Linked DNA regions of Homo sapiens: region 1 is linked to region 2. The links come from fine-mapping of genetic effects on gene expression. A gene starts in region 2. The other region holds a variant in brackets. All regions are shown on one strand. Distances are from middle to middle. Region 1 has its middle 7.2 kb from the start of KRTDAP. Region 2 holds the start of DMKN (dermokine).

Region 1 (2,905 bases), 30 kb after region 2:
TCAGAGAACTTAAGATTAACCCAGAATCAGGATAGTAGTTGCCCCTTAGATGGAGAGATCCCATGTGATAGGAGAGTGGCACATAGGAGATAAGGGGGGACGGTGTGTGACAGAAGCCACTTCTATATCATGTTTCATTTCTTCTTTAAATATGTACATTTTATGCACACCTATGCATGTTGTATTTCACAATAACATATTATTAAAGCCAGAGAACACCAGATCAATTTGCAAGTGCTGACAGAATACACAGTCAAGAAACAATTGGAGTCTAGAGAGACTGCAATCTGAACCAAAAAGAAAAAGACAAAGTGAAGTGTAGACAAGCTGTGCACATGAGTGACAGATGTATACTAGCTAGATCATGTGAAATTGACAAAATGCACAAACATGGGTCAGGCCATTCAGAGGATTCAAAGAATGGAAGACATAGCACCTGTTCTCCCTGGGGATGACCTGTACATTTCCCATCAGGTAGAGGAGATAACTCAACACTGGAGACTTGAATCTGCATAAGCAAATCTTATTAAATAACCTTTATTTAATAAAAGGCAGGAAGTAGTCACTCTTCATTTTATACTTTATAAAAACAATAACAAATGCATTTTTTTTTTTTGAGACGGAGTTTCACTCTGTTGCTCAGGCTGGAGTGCAGTGGTGCAATCTTGGCTCACCACAACCTCTGCTTCCCAGGTTCAAACGATTCTCCTGCCTCAGCCTCCTGAGAAGATGGAATTACATCTTCTACATGGGTGCCCGCCACCATGTCCGGCTAATTTTTGTATTTTTAGTAGAGATGGGGTTTTGCCACGTCAGCCAGGCTGGTCTTGAACTCCTGACTTCAGGTGATCCGCCTGCACTGGACTCCCAAAGTGCAGGGATTACAGGTGTGAACCACCATGCCTGGCCAACAAATGAATCTTGTGTGGATACTATACCATCTGTTCAACAGGATGTAGAGATATACACTGAGCTATGAAACAATCTCCAAGATAGAGTAAAATGAAAAAAAGAAAGTGGCAGATCATTATGCTGCCATGTGGTTAAAATAAAGATATGGTACAAATATATGCTATTATCTGCATATTATCTGCTATTATCTGGAATAAAACTTGAGAAGTAACAGTGATAACTTTTGAAAAGTTAGATACTTTCACTGTGTACCCTTTTGGATTTTATGAACAAAAATGTTTTACCATGTGCAAATTACATATTCAAAAGAATAAATTAAAATCAAAACTTTCTAGTAAAGCAAACAAACACCAAAAAAACGCTTTGCACTGTAAAGTGGTAGGGCCTAGTCCATGCAGTGACCCAGAGTAGGTGCCTCTTAACTGAATGAATGAAACTGATTTCTCACATTTACCACA[C/T]CCTTTTGCTACTCAGAGTGTGGTCCCCGAGCCAGCGGCATCAGCATCACTTGGTGCTTGCTTGCTAGAAATGCAGAAGCTCTGCTCACCCAGAGCTAATGCATCAGAATTTTAACAAGACCCCTGCCCCTGGATGATTCACATGTGGAATAACGTTTGAGAAGCACGGCCTTGGGCATGATGTTGAGTGCTATGCAGAAGGCCTTCAAGGAGTTATGATCCAGTTGATACTTACGATAAAGGAAGCATCCAGGGAGAAGGCACTAGATACCTTAGAACGATATGTTTAAATCTGACAGAAGGGAGGAGATAGTTTTGCACCAGGGTAAGAAAACTGGGGAAAGTAACTTTGAATTTGGCATTCATAAATGAACTTAAAAAAAAAAAAAGTCCCTGTCATACTCAGCCAGGACATAAAGGGACTAAAAACCAAAGCCAAACTAAGTGATTACTTTGGGAGGCTTCTGGGAATCAACTCATTTAAAAAACTGGTAAATAAAGGAAATGAATCAAGGATTCATCCTTACTTTCCTCTATGAACTATATACTTCAGGGTAAACAGTTTCTCTCTCTCTCTCTTTTTTTTTTTTTTTTTTTTTTGAGACAGCGTCTTGCTCTTTCACCGAGGCTGGAGTGCAGTGGCATGATCTTGGCTGGAGGCAGCCTTCACCTCCCTGGCTCAAGCAATCCTCCTGCCTCAGCCTCCTGAGTAGTTGGAACTACAGGCACAAGCCACCACACCTGGTATATTTTTAAATTTTTTGTAGGATGGGTGTCTTGCTATGTTGCCCAGGGTGGTCTTCAACTCCTGACCTCAAGTGATCCTCTGGCCTTGGCCTCCCAAAGTGTTGAAATTACAGGCATGCGCCACCATGCCCAGCTGGCACAATTTTTCTTTATACGAGAATTTGAAACTAATAAATGCAAAAGAAATAATAGAATATTTTCGTTTTTCAAAATTTAATAAAATAATGAATGTAGGCTAGCATCTGTAGGGAAGGAAAAAAACATTTTTTTCTACTGTCTTAGGTTCAGTGGCTGTGGCATGCTAATTACATTAACAAAAGAGGCCAGGCACAGTGGCTCATGCCTGTAATCCTAGCACTTTGGGAGGCCGAGGCAGGTGGATCACCTGAGGTCAAGAGTTCGAGACCAGCCAGACCAATATGGTGAAACGCCATCTCTACTGAAAATACAAAAATTAGCTGGGCATGGTGGCGCATGCCTGTAGTCCCAGCTACTCAGGAGGCTGAGACAGGAGAATTGCTTGAACCTGGGAGGCAGAGGTAGCAGTAAGCCGAGATCACACAACTGTACTCCAGCCTGGGCGACAGAGTGAGACTCCATCTTAAAAAAAAAAATTAACAAAAGATAGATTAGCAGGAGAAAAGGCTTATTATGCATGCATCCAGGAGCTTCACAGAAAAGAAGTGAAAACCTAAAGAAGTGGCCAGGCTTGAGGCTCATATACCGTTTTAACAAAGGGTGATAAATCGTGGAAAAGTAAGCTGGGCATGGTGGCTCATGCCTGTAAT
Region 2 (2,905 bases):
AGGAGGACAGATGGGGATAGTGTTTACAAGGTAAGAAGTGTTGGATGTTATAAGCTGGGGTGCGGATATTGGGGTGGAGAGAAGAGAGAGACTGACTGAGAGACATTGAGAAAGGCTGATGGAAACTGGCCCCTCCTAACTGGGCGATGAACCCCAGTGATACGAAACAGTGGGAGGCCCTGTGGCCCCTGGGAATAGAGAAGCAGCCACACTTGCTGGGCAGGGGTGAGGCGGGGGGAGGCTCCCAGGTTCTGTATCCCGAGCTGGGACTGGGGAGAGGGCCGTGGCTCTCACGGATGGCTCCTGACCTTGCGCTACCCTCTTCTCGCTTGCCATTGCTGCCCTGGCCCCTGGCCTGGGGGATGGGTGGGGTGAGCTGGCCCAGTCCCGCCCCTCATAGGCGCTTATACTCACACGTGCCCCTCTAGGGCTGCGTAAACAGGATGGGTGCCTGGGTCAGCGGCTCCCTCCCTTGGCCTTCCCTCCCACTCGTTCCCTGGGGGTGGCTGGCGCGCCTGGCTGCCCTGCTCCGCGCCCAGCTTTCTCAGCCGGGAGCAGCCTGAACGCTGAGACACCCTGCTGACCACTCAAAGGGCTATGGCCACCTCCTTCCCCGACACCGAGGGTCCCCCCGGGGGCTCTCCCCAGAATCTCAGAAACTGACACGCAGCCCCGTGTTTGCCAGTCTCTCTCTGTGGGCTGGAAGGTGTGGAGGAACAAGAAGGCAGTCACCTGTAGGTGGCAATGCGGGAGGGGAGAGGGAGAGGAGAGGCTGAGGTGCTGAAACCGAGAAAGGCCAGGCCGAGGACGGGCAATGCCTGTCACTCTGGAGCCCCTGAGCCAGGCTGGCTGAGCCTGGGTGGGTCCTGTCCCCTGGGGCTTCCCTGTCCTTACTCCTTTGGTGGGGTCCTGCCAGTAACTCCTCTCTTCTAAGTCTGCCCCCACCCCACCGCCTCCAGGAGCCAACGACAACCTGTCTCCTTAGATGCCCCTGCCCCCACCCAGCTCCCCGAATGCCTGGGGTTGGGAAATGGGAGCACTTTTGCATCACCTCATCCATTTCTCCCTCCCTCCCTGATGCGGCTCACTCTCTGTTTCGACAGAGACTCTCAGACTCACAATAACAGCTGATTACCCTATTGGTGGCTGGGCCCTGAGTCACTGCGGGGAGGGACCTCAGGTTGCCCAGCCCTGTCACCTTCTCCCAACCTAGAGTATAAGGAGTAGTGACAGGGAGGTGGACTCTGAGAAGCCCAGGCAGTTGAGGACAGGAGAGAGAAGGCTGCAGACCCAGAGGGAGGGAGGACAGGGAGTCGGAAGGAGGAGGACAGAGGAGGGCACAGAGACGCAGAGCAAGGGCGGCAAGGAGGAGACCCTGGTGGGAGGAAGACACTCTGGAGAGAGAGGGGGCTGGGCAGAGATGAAGTTCCAGGGGCCCCTGGCCTGCCTCCTGCTGGCCCTCTGCCTGGGCAGTGGGGAGGCTGGCCCCCTGCAGAGCGGAGAGGAAAGCACTGGGACAAATATTGGGGAGGCCCTTGGACATGGCCTGGGAGACGCCCTGAGCGAAGGGGTGGGAAAGGCCATTGGCAAAGAGGCCGGAGGGGCAGCTGGCTCTAAAGTCAGTGAGGCCCTTGGCCAAGGGACCAGAGAAGCAGTTGGCACTGGAGTCAGGCAGGTTCCAGGCTTTGGCGTAGCAGATGCTTTGGGCAACAGGGTCGGGGAAGCAGCCCATGCTCTGGGAAACACTGGGCACGAGATTGGCAGACAGGCAGAAGATGTCATTCGACACGGAGCAGATGCTGTCCGCGGCTCCTGGCAGGGGGTGCCTGGCCACAATGGTGCTTGGGTGAGTGGCTGTGGGGCTGCATGTGGAAATGGGAGGCTGTGGGCTGCTGGGCTGAGATTCTTGGGAAACGGTTGAAAGGATGGATGGATCTCTTACTTGCAGGCTTCTGGGGCAGCTTCCTTCTATGTTCTGCCCCCCTCCTATGCCACCCTGGAGTCCCTCTGCCTGTCTCTCTCCTGGTCTCTTTATGATTTGCCCTGGCTCTTCTCTACCAGGGTCAGAGATGGTCCCACTAAGTGCAGGTATGTTGTTCTTGCAGGAAACTTCTGGAGGCCATGGCATCTTTGGCTCTCAAGGTGGCCTTGGAGGCCAGGGCCAGGGCAATCCTGGAGGTCTGGGGACTCCGTGGGTCCACGGATACCCCGGAAACTCAGCAGGCAGCTTTGGAATGAATCCTCAGGGAGCTCCCTGGGGTCAAGGAGGCAATGGAGGGCCACCAAACTTTGGGACCAACACTCAGGTAAAGTCACCCCCAGACCTGCTACCTGCCACCTCCCTCCCTCCAAGCCCACATGCTCCGCGTGCCTCCCTGGTCCCTCTGGATCCTACTCTCAGTCTCACCCTCTCTGCAGGGAGCTGTGGCCCAGCCTGGCTATGGTTCAGTGAGAGCCAGCAACCAGAATGAAGGGGTAAGAGGAAGGGGCTGGGAACAAATGAAGAAGCCACTGGGTGCAGGCTACAGAGAGCTGGGGAAAGACAAAGAGGAAAGCAAGATGGGGGAGTGGAGGGATTGGGGTGAGAGGAAGAGATGGGGCTGGGCGAGGTGGCTCACACCTGTAATCCCAGCACTTTGGGAGGCCAAGGCACGTGGATCACCTGAGGTCAGGAGTTCAAGACCAGCCTGGTCAACATGGTGAAACCCTGTCTTCACTAAAAATACAAAAATCAGCCGGTCATAGTGGCATGCGCCTGTAATTGCAGCCACTTGGGAGGCGGAGGCAGGAGAATCACTTGAACCTGGGAGATGGAGGTTGCAGTGAGCCGAGATCGCATCACTGCACTCCAGCCTGAGCAACAGAGTGAGACCCTGTCTCAAAAAAAAAAAAAAAAAAAAAAGGA

What was found. PIP is the estimated chance that this variant, and not a neighbour inherited with it, causes the effect.
Region 1: its variant is fine-mapped to the expression of DMKN in whole blood (TOPMed, PIP above 0.99). The same link has a PIP of 0.9 or more in blood mononuclear cells.

The regions. Positions count from the first base shown.
Region 1 is chr19:35,481,766-35,484,670 of GRCh38, reverse strand. No RefSeq gene overlaps it. Among named protein-coding and RNA genes, the nearest start is that of KRTDAP, 7.2 kb to the left of the region's middle. The variant C/T (reference allele first, on the strand shown) is at 1,371.
Region 2 is chr19:35,511,991-35,514,895 of GRCh38, reverse strand. DMKN (dermokine) reads left to right here and starts at 1,247. Exons shown (of 16, transcript NM_033317.5): 1 at 1,247-1,846; 2 at 2,106-2,306; 3 at 2,419-2,475. The coding sequence starts at 1,421.